2 separate regions of the Homo sapiens genome follow, and region 2 is linked to region 1. Evidence: fine-mapped expression QTL. A gene starts in region 1. The other region holds a variant in brackets. All regions are shown on one strand. Distances are from middle to middle.

Evidence for each region. PIP is the estimated chance that this variant, and not a neighbour inherited with it, causes the effect. A credible set is the group of variants that fine-mapping cannot tell apart.
Region 2: its variant is the best candidate, but not a certain one, in a credible set for the expression of KAT6B in whole blood (INTERVAL, PIP 0.79).

What each region holds. Positions count from the first base shown.
Region 1 is chr10:74,823,598-74,828,969 of GRCh38, reverse strand. It overlaps KAT6B (lysine acetyltransferase 6B), which reads right to left and starts at 2,370. Exons shown (of 18, transcript NM_012330.4): 1 at 2,185-2,370. RefSeq lists silencers at 1,905-2,304, 2,995-3,194, 3,305-3,404, 3,515-3,684, 4,195-4,244 and enhancers at 2,520-3,291, 3,292-4,063.
Region 2 is chr10:74,986,451-74,991,822 of GRCh38, reverse strand. It overlaps KAT6B (lysine acetyltransferase 6B), which reads right to left. Exons shown (of 18, transcript NM_012330.4): 13 at 2,711-2,804. Among named protein-coding and RNA genes, the nearest start is that of SNORD172, 33 kb to the left of the region's middle. The variant C/T (reference allele first, on the strand shown) is at 2,342.

The DNA.
Region 1 (5,372 bases):
GAAGTTCTCGGAAAAGAAAAAACATGTGCATTATCCTTTCCTTCTTAAAAACATAAAATACTGTCCAAATTCATTCTGATAAATGTGTAAAGAACTTATGAATGGCCGGGCGCGGTGGCTCACGCCTGTAATCCCAGCACTTTGGGAGGCCGAGGCGGGCAGATCACAAGGTCAAGAGTTCGAGACCATCCTGGCTAACACGGTGAAACCCCGTCTCTACTAAATATACAAAAAATTAGCGGGGCGTGGTGGCAGGCGCCTGTAGTCCCAGCTACTCCGGAGGCTGAGGCAGGACAATGGCGTGAACCCGGGAGGCGGAGCTTGCAGTGAGCCGAGATGGCGCCACTGCACTCCAGCCTGGGCGACAGACTGAGACTCCGTCTCAAAAAAAAAAAAAAAAAAAAAAAGAACTTATGAGTAAGAAAAAAATGGAGTGTTTTATTTCAAGGCTATGCCAAAAAATCTAGGGTATACAAGTAAGACAGGAAGAATGCACTTTAAAAAAAAAAAAACACAAAAAACCTTCTTGGGGCCCCATAGAACTAAGACTGTTCGAACACAACTAATTTCCATTTGCTATTTCCACCTTCTGTCCATATAGGAGGGGCCCTCATATGCTCTACCCTGAATTTCCTTGGTACCTCCAACCCCAAACATACTTGGTTCGTTGGTCTTCATTTCCTATTTCCCACATCTGTAATTCTTTATCACTACCCCTTCACAACTTCTGTCTAACACTCTCTTTAACACGTCCCAACACCTTCTACCAATTACAGGGCTTAAACTCCTTCATGGGGCATAGGACACCATTTGTAATCTAACCCCTCCTCTGCCTTTGCCTGGTCATCTCCTACCACTCCCTGCACTCTGCCCACAGCAAAGTACTAGCAAATTCAAAGCTATGCAAAATGTCCTATCCCAAGGTATGGTGCATGTCTCTTCCTGGGATACCCTGCTGCCGGACACTCCCTTGAAGACTCCAGATCAAGTTTAACATAATGAATCCAGCGTATCACGGGTCGCCATAGCTCACGTCTGTAATCCCATCAGTCAGGCAGAGGTGGGCAGATCACTTGAGGCCAGGAGTTCGAGACCAGCCTGGGCAACATAGTGAGACCCTTTTCTCATTTTTATAAAAAATAATAAATACAGCCTATCAAACAACTTGTCTCCCAAACTAACACCTTTCTCTGCCCCATCCTCACCCCTGGCACAGTCCACCAAATCACATTCACCGAAAATTACTGTACAGCTCCACCCACTTTCTTCACACCTGCCGCCTTGTCCCACCCCTACCAATCCCTTGTCCCCAGGAGATTTTCTGCCACAGATTTTGCAAGTTCTAAGCAGCCTCTCTCCCCTTCCTTCATATTTAAGTTTGCTCTGCTGTCTTAGCATCATCTTTCAGAAACTCTCCCAAGCACAACCATCCCATCCTTCCACGTTTTTAAAAAATACTTCATACCCCAAAGCTAGCAAACCTCCTTCTTATTCCAACATGCGATCCACCCAGATACCTCTTTCCCATCACTGCAATCGTACCTGCTCCTCACATGCGCCTCAATGCCTCCCCAAACCCCTCAACGCCTCCCCAAACCCAACACTCTGCACCGCTTCAACTCTACTCCACATCCACCACACCCAAACCCACCTACTCTGCGCCCAGACAACTGCAATCTCGCCTTCGGTATCATCTCACCTGCCCTCACACACCCCTCGGTCCGCCTTCCACTTCTCTCAAATTGCATCCCTCCCTAACTCTCCCTCTGCACCTGCTTCTACACCTTCAGCTTCTCCTCCCACCCAACCCTCACTAGTCTTCCTCACACCCTCGCCGGCCCCCCACCGCTCCTACCAGTTCACTCCCACTCAGAAATTCCCTCTCAGCCCCCGCCTTCCGACTCCCCGAACCCCGCCCCCACCCGATCCCGCCCCGCCCCCCTCCGCCCTCGAGCCCCGCCCCCTTGCCCTAGAGCCCTGCCGAGGGGCGGGGCCTGTCCCTCCTCCCCTTTCCCCCGCCCCCTACCGTCACGCTCAGGGGCAGCCTGACCCCGAGCGGCCCCGCGGTGACCCTCGCGCAGAGGCCTGTGGGAGGGGCGTCGCAAGCCCCTGAATCCCCCCCCGTCTGTTCCCCCCTCCCGCCCAGTCTCCTCCCCCTGGGAACGCGCGGGGTGGGTGACAGACCTGGCTGCGCGCCACCGCCACCGCGCCTGCCGGGGGCGCTGCCGCTGCCTGAGAAACTGCGGCTGCCGCCTGGAGGAGGTGCCGTCGCCTCCGCCACCGCTGCCGCCGCCGCCAGGGGTAGGAGCTAAGCCGCCGCCATTTTGTGTCCCCCTGTTGTTGTCGTTGACATGAATCCGACATGACACTGATTACAGCCCAATGGAGTCTCATTAAACCCGAGTCGCGGTCCCGCCCCGCCGCTGCTCCATTGGAGGAGACCAAAGACACTTAAGGCCACCCGTTGGCCTACGGGTCTGTCTGTCACCCACTCACTAACCACTCTGCAGCCCATTGGGGCAGGTTCCTGCCGGTCATCTCGCTTCCACATAAACACACCCCTCGACCCATCATCCCCCCCTCCGGCACCACCCCGGGGGAGGGTCCACTGCCAATACCAATCAACAGACCGCTGGGTCCGCCTCTTCCGGGCACCTATTGGTCCAGCCCTTTTTCTCTCTCCTAGATACCGCGCCACCTCTACTTCCACCTACCCGCCCCCTCCACCTCTAGGAAAGGATTGGGTCTACTCGCAGCAGAGGAGCGTAGCCTTATTGGCTGCAGACGACGCCAATCAGGAGGCCTTTTCCCTCTCCCCTCCCCCACTCAACCCCAAACCCCCTAGCCCGCAGCTAAAGTTTGTGTGAGAGCTGATCGCTGGCGGCGGCCGCAGGATTTAGGGGTGGGCGCGGGCGGGCGCGCGCGGGCGGGCACGCGAAGTTAAAATTCGAGGTTCTCAGTCGCCAGCTCCTTCGGTGGAGTGTGCGGACGGGCGCGCCGCCCGGAGCGTTCCATCCCGCCCCCTCCTCCACCCTCTCTCCCGTCCCGTCCCGTCCCGGGCGACTACTCGCCCGCCCCCTGGCTCGCATCCTTCCCCCCCCAACACACCCCTACCCTGCCAGCCCCAGGCCGGGTGCAGGCAGAACGATGTCGCTGCAGCCTCCTCGCCATCCCATGCCTCGGGGGAGCAAGCCCCTACCCACCGGGCGTGCACCCCCCGGCTCCACACTCGCCCGTGTCTGCAAGCACGTGCACCGCTCGCCGCTGCCTCCGGCCACCCGGGTCCCCGGCTAACCTCGCCTGCAGCCCGGCCAATCGCTCGCTGCCCTTTGTTGCTGCAGCCTGGGTCTCCCCGCTGCCTTCCTCAGCCTCCGCCTCGTCCTTTGCCAGCCGCCCGGGTCCGCAGCGCCGCGCTCCCCCCGCCCGGGACCCACCGCCGCCGCCTCCTTCTCCTCCTCCGCCTCCTCCTCCTCGGCTCCGGGCTGCAGCGCACAGAGCCCGAGGCAGCGCCGCCCAGCCCCGCTCCCCCCGCGCCGCCCGCCAGCCCGCCCGGCCTGGCCGGGGGCGCAGCCCGGACCCCGCCCGCCCCAGTCTCCGCCCCGGGGGTACCTGCCTCCGCCCCGGGGGGCTCCTCTCGCCGCCCTCGGGGGAGGGCGGAGACGCTGGTGTCCGCGGGAGGATGGGGACGCCTGGGCCGTTTGGGGCGGGGAGTGTGCCCGCCAGGGCTGGGACTGAGGTGCGGTCCTCGCCAACGCGTCCCCACTCCCGTCGCTGTGGGCCCCAAACTTCGTCCTTCGCCCAGGCTTTGCGCCTTCGGGCGATCGCGGCAGTTTTGGGGTGGGGGACGCCTCGGGAGCTGTGTCTACCCTGATCGGGAGGAAGAGGGAGCAGTGACATTCAGCGACTGCGGACAGGGCACGGCGGCGGCATCCTTGTGTGGGAGTGGGGATGTCAGACGCGGGCTGGAGGGGGAAGCTGCCCCCCAGGATGCTCTCTCCCTGCCTGCGAGGAGCTGGCGAGCTCAGCCGCGTTCTGGGTGCTTTCTTGGGCGGTGCAGGCGGATGGCAGAGGGGCTGAGGCGGGAGGGGGGCGGGGAAGACCGCTGGGGGGCCCTTCCCCCCCTCTCTTTTAGCCAGCGCTGTAAGGAAGGCTGATGGCGAAGTTCGGTTTTCCAGGCTTCCCCTGGGCCCCCCGAGTTCCTGAGGCCCACTTGAGGGAGACTGGGGGCTCCTCTGGCCGCCCAGGCGAGGCCACTCTGACGCTGCCCACATGCCTCCCAGAGCTCTCTGGACTCTGAAGAGAGCGCCCCTGGTTCTTTCCGGAGGTGAATGGGATGCTGGCAAGGGAGACTTCAGAAAATAGGAAAGGTGGGCTGAGAAATGGCTCCTAGAGAGTTTGAGCACGAAGTTTCCCTCCCAGGCGCCATTTCTTTGAGAGGGGGAGGAGAACTATGGCTTTGCAAAAGAACCAAGTTTCAGGCATGGTGGCCTGGGTGGAAAACCACCTGTTGCCTGAAGTCTGTCCCTGGAGTCAGGGCCATCTTGGGCCTGGGCATGGCTATGCCGGGTGCCAGGGAGGGGAGGCCCCAGGCTTCCTGCCCTGGTTGACTCCTGCAGCCTCATGCCACTGACACTGCAGCGGCATCTTCACCTTCCCATTAGAAACCACTGTACAACTAGGTAGGTACTTTGTTAGGACAACTTATCTTCGTCCTTATCTCAGACAAAACAAGCAGCACACGCAGCCCTGTCTTCAAATGCAGACCACAACACACACTTCATTTTTTAAAGATGGTCTGCTGCTTTGGGGTGTGAGCTCCCTCTCCTCCTGAGCTTCTTGGCAGCAAGGTGAGAAAGGAACTTAGACAAAGGGCACAGAGTTGGATGAAAGGATAGAGAAAGGTCGAGGGGGAGCAGAAGAATTGTAATACTACACTACAAACTGTCACCGGTTCCATTATAAACAGTTTTTATAGGTGTTTTATTACTTGGTTGTTAGTTTTTTAAAACACAAACCTCTTTAGATTAAATCTTGGCATTCACAGGCTCAGCCCAGGGAAACAAAACACAGAGAAAACTCCAGCCATCCGCTTGGCTACTTTTGAGTTACATTACTGATAAAACAAACAGCAGGTTGGGTTTCCTCAGACTCTGTCTCAGCCTCGTTTATTTAGTATCTTCAATAGCTTGCTCAAGGCGAATTTTTACAAACCATTAGTTAGTTCATAATTCAGTGTAGTTCACTTAGGTGTTTCGAAGAGAAGGACACTTATAAGGTGTGCTTTTTTATAATGCAGGTGCTGGGATTTTTATTCTCCAAGAAGTTACTAAATAAACTTAAGAATCCTGGCCCACTCTTTATTTAGGCTTTCT
Region 2 (5,372 bases), 160 kb before region 1:
TGGTTTTAAACTGAATTTCTATTGGGTTTACACCAGTTCCCATTTTCTTTGAGTGCTATAAAATTCTTCCCCTAGTTTCCCCTTCTCTGAGGGAATAACACCAGTCTCTTCAACTTTATTCAAATCTTTCACTGCACTTCTTAACTCACTCCAGTAGGGGCAATGCTAGGTGTACAGGAAAGAGAAAAGAAAAAAACCACACCCTCAGCACTACTTTGCCTGCTCACATCCTGGTGGACAGCATTCATCATGGTGGCCTGGAGCCACTGAGAAAAGGTTTCAATGTGTTCTGTAGTTTAATAATACAAGGTAGTTTCTAGTAACAGTTTTCACTAAAATGGTTAAAAAAAAGACATAGCATTTGAAGATAATGTATTTGTTACCCAGATTGTTCTCTTATGTAGAAGGCCTTAGTGCCAGATCATGCTGTACAAATAAGATACTACTGAATTTAGAGCTTGAACTTTTACCTAGTAAGTACCAGTTCCTTTTTAATTTTAGGTAGACAATGATTGTGGACAGCAACCATATATCAATTTGGAAATTTAGTTTATATCAATAAAATTTAATTTATATCATCTAATACATATTATTATAAAGGAAACTGTCCTAGTGGATACAGAGAAGTTGGAAGTATGAAACCTCCATCAATAATTATCATAAAAGGGTGAACAGAGTGTAAGTGTGATACCATATAGAATATGGTATAAGATAAAATAAAGGTATGAGATAAAATTCCAGGAGGTGGGATCAAAAAGCAGAGATTCTTGAGCTGGCTCTTAACAATGGGCAGGATTTTGAACAGACGGAGTCTAGGAAAGGACGAGGTGATCATTTCAAGGAAGGGACTGAATAGACAAAAAAATAGAGGTATAGGACCATGCTCAGACTATTTGAGAAAAAGGAGATTAGTAGATGAAAAAGCCTAAAGGACAGGCTGGAACTAGATGTTGGAAGACGTTAAATATTGAGCTAAGGAGTTTGCCTTATTCTGTAGGCATATAGATATGACCAAACATTTAAGGCTTGAATGGCTGCTATGCATACCAGAAACTATATTTATGAACTACTTATGAATGGTAGCCACACAAAACTAGAGAACAAGATAAATGGTTTTGCCCTCAGAAATGATTACAGCTAGGACTCTATAAAAATAAAAATGGTACACTGCATTTGGTAAGGTGGCCCTCCTTGGGATTACTGGTTTCATGGATAATTAGGTCAGGAAAGTATAGATAAGACTAGGGTAATTAATAAATAACTAAAAATATTATCTAAAAAGAGAAAAATAATCAAAATTCTTCTTTTAAAAGAATCATATTCTTCAATGTCAATAAATCATATAAATCAGTCCAAAACTGCTATTCAGTTATTTTACACTTTAATCAGACCTTAATCTTTTAATACCTAACAATATAGATTTAGATTCACTATATTTCTTCATGGTTTTCTGTAAGCGCATTTACATTGTGGTTTTTGCATCTGATGTAGCTGATGAAGATTGTGCAAAGTCCTAAATTTTCCTCCTTTCAGTTAATAATCAGATAAACTGCAATCTGGTAATCAAGAAGCACCTGGTTCCTAGCGACAGACTTTTTTTTTTTTTTTTTTTTTTTTTTTTTTTTTGAGACAGAGTCTCTCACTCTGTCACCCAGGCTGGAGTGCAGTGGCACCATCTCGGCTCACTGCAACCTCCACCTCCCGGGTTCAAGTGATTCTCCTGCCTCAGCCTCCCTAGTAGCTGGGAGTACAGGTGTGTGCCACCACATCCAGCTAATTTTTGTATTTTTTAGTAGAGATGGGGTTCACCATGTTGGCCAGGATGGTCTCGATCTCTTGATCTTGTGACCCACCTGCCTTGGCCTCCCAAAGTGCTGGGATTACAGGCATAAGCCACCACGCCCGGCCAGTGACAGATTTTTACATGACGAGAAATGACTATTATCATGGGTTATCTGGTCATCATGTTATCTAGATATTTTGAATTGATTCTCCAAATGTACCCCTAACACAACATTTACACATCCAGTATAATATAAACAAGGAGGAAAAAAAAAACTACCATTTTTAAAAACATTATCCATGTGCATACTTTTATATATTATGCCGGTTTTAACTGAGAAGGTTCAGAAGATATGAGTGCATATAAGATAAATATTTCTTGGGAAACCTCTAGATACAAACACTGTATTAATTTCCATAATAGAAAAGGGAAATTAACAAAATAAGGTAAGAGTTATTTCTACTAGCAAGGCCCAGGATAAGCTGCCTAGAAAATTATTTTTCTAAATGGAAATATACCTTTTCTGCTTTGTACTGTACAAGATTATAGGCAAAATTT[C/T]AGAGAGCTGAAAATCCTTTCAAATAATACTTCCTTTAGCTTTAATCACAAATAATTGCCTCTTTTGGTGCTAATGAGCATGAGCACCACAAAATGGAATGTAATTCTGTCGGTTCATTCAGGGTAATGGCTTTGTGCATGAGGCCTGCTGCCGAGAGATCTAGTCTCAATTTCCTAGAGTACAATCACTGAGCAGCAGTACATTTTTCACTTGAGGAAGATGTTCTAACCTATGTAAATATAAATAGAAAGCCCATTATCTATTGATAAAAACAACAATGCAGGTTAAATAAAGTTTTATATTTTACTGTTTCCTGTAACGGCCATCAGCTTCCTGGATCATGAAAGTAAATAAAGTACTTCACTTACTGAAATCAATGAGAAACCGTCCAAATCCTTGCCTTTGGTGCTGGGGCATGATCATTATGCAGGAGACATTATACTTCTGCTGGCAAAGCTTTTCCTGAGGGAAGGAGAAACAGATCAAGTATGTCAGAGCCCTGCTGAAGTGGGCAATTCCCTGCACCTGCCACTGTCCTTGTAAAACTGTCCACTAAAGAAAGCCAATGGGTTAGGTCAGGATCAAGCAGAAAAATCCTACTATATTAATCAATCAAACTATCAATTAACAACAAACCATCGACTCTGACATGCCTCTCAACTACATCTTTATTCTTGAAAGTCAGTGCCATAAAATATGCATAAAGAATCCAAGGAAATATATGAACCAAATAAAACAGAATATAGACAGCATAAAAGAAATGCTTTCCTTGCTCAAATAACTTCAGAGATAGAGAAAATAACATCCCAGGGAGTCACCCAGTGGAGTAAGTTAGGATTTAGCTGGCTATCTTGCTAAATATAATAATAATCTACAACTCTGCAACAGCAATCTGTCTTCTGCCTTTGGGCAAATGTCCCAGTGAAACTAAAACAGTATCTGTGTGGGTAGATGTGCACACATATATTTCTCCTATGAATAAAAAGTCAATGTAAAAAGCTAGAGAAATAATCTGCATTTCAAACCAGGAAAACAAAATAAAATGAAACAAAAAGACAACAACAAGAAACCCTAAAGCCTCCAAACAAAGGTTAGACCAAAATATTACGAACAGTTTGAAACCAGGAGGAAGACTGGGTAGAACATGGTAAGAAACAGCTCTTACAGTTAAAGAAGAATTTGCAACTTTCATGGGATGTGGCATCAGGGCAGTATTTTTTTATTCAGAGTACAAAGAAGTTGCCAAAACCTACACAGAGATCTGGAAAAGGCTTTTGAGGTCGTGGATGCTCTGGCCAAATATAAACCACAAATAAGACTGACCACAAATGGTACAGACCACACCAAAGAATTACTTCAGAACACCCAGATCTTTAATGAACCAATTTGAAAGATCACAGGAGATGGTTGTGGAAAAAACCCTACAGGGCAGAATTGAAGATTTCTTTGTGAAAAAGATGTACTCCCAACTTTTGCACATTTGTAGTTGTCTATGGAGCCTCTAAAAAATGAGGATGAAGCAATGTGTGTCAGTTTTTCTAAGAAGATGAATTGTCCCTCACTGGATGTGCACATCAATGGCAAAGGTTCAAGTAATTCGTCTGTTTTGCAAAGTTAGACAAATGGGTCACTCTCTCTAAAAAGAAATGTACTCTGGGTTAAGAGAATTCATCCTTGATACCATTCCTTGCTTTGTCCAGAACCATTTCCACCTTTCGGAGTTTTTTGAGATCCAACATAGTAGTGATCCTTCTTCCCCTCCGTGCAGCTTAACATGTTACTACAGCTAAATTCTAAGCTATGAATAAAATAACTAATCCTTCTTTCCTTTCTGTTTACAGCCATCTATTATGTGCTTGGAAAGTCATATGCATGTAACAATTTGCACTGAACCTTTCCAGGTCATTCCAGCCCTTCTCTGGCTATCCTTGAACTGTAGTTCTAATAACCTCTAGAATGTGGTTCAAGAATAGCCCCAAAGGGCCAGAGTCCTCTAGATTCCAGCTGACACATGAGAATATGGTTTAGTTTCATCTAGTCTTTTTTTTTTTGAGATGGAGTCTTGCTGTTGCCAGGCTGGAGTGCAGTGGTGCAATCTCAGCTCACTGCAACCTCCGCCTCCTGGGTTCAAGGGATTCTCCTGTCTCGGCCTCCAGAGTAGCTGGGATTACAGGGTGCCACAATGCCCAGCTAATTTTTGTATTCTTAGTACAGACGGGGTTTCACCATGTTGGCCAGGATGGTCTCTCGATCTCTTGACCTCATGATCTGCCCACCTCGGCCTCCCAAAGTGCTGGGATTACAGGCGTGAGCCACCGCACCCGGCCTCATCTAGTCTTTTAACATGCTTATTTTTTAGATTAATTTTTGTTTCACTATACTGCCAAGGCATATTAGTATTCCAGAATAGTAGGAAATAACAGCAGCTGCTGCCATGCTATAGAAGAAACTATGAGAAAAGTTGAGCTAGTTCTGAGTAAAATTTTGGGTACCCTGGCAGGAAGAGAGGCAGAAATTCAAACTTCAAGAATCACCACCAACTCTACACATGGCTGCTACTCAGCAGCCAACACAAGACCCAGGAGTGGGATGGTCAGTGCAGCACGAGGAAGGTGGGCACCGTTAAGCCTATGTTTAAATCCACAGACAATGAAAGAAACACCATTTTCTAACAGCAAGGACGCAACCACTATTCTTTTTAAGTTTCTGGAGAAGAATGATCTTGACAAACCTACATAAAAGGTAAGGTGTTTTATTTATTAATCATATAGATTTCCTATTTATTGTTTTATTCAGTGTTAATTCTCTATCATCTTTTGAATTTGTAATGTGCAAATTAACTTTCTTCTTTTTCATTTTAAAGCTTTACCAAATATGTGGATTAAAACACTGAGACAGTTTTCCATGAATGCTGTTACTTATTTTTGTTTATGATCTTTGGGTTGATTCTTAAATTTAGGATAGCTATAGTTTGCAAGTACCTTCACATATATTCTATCTTTTGAAACTTCATTAAAATGGCACTTCTAT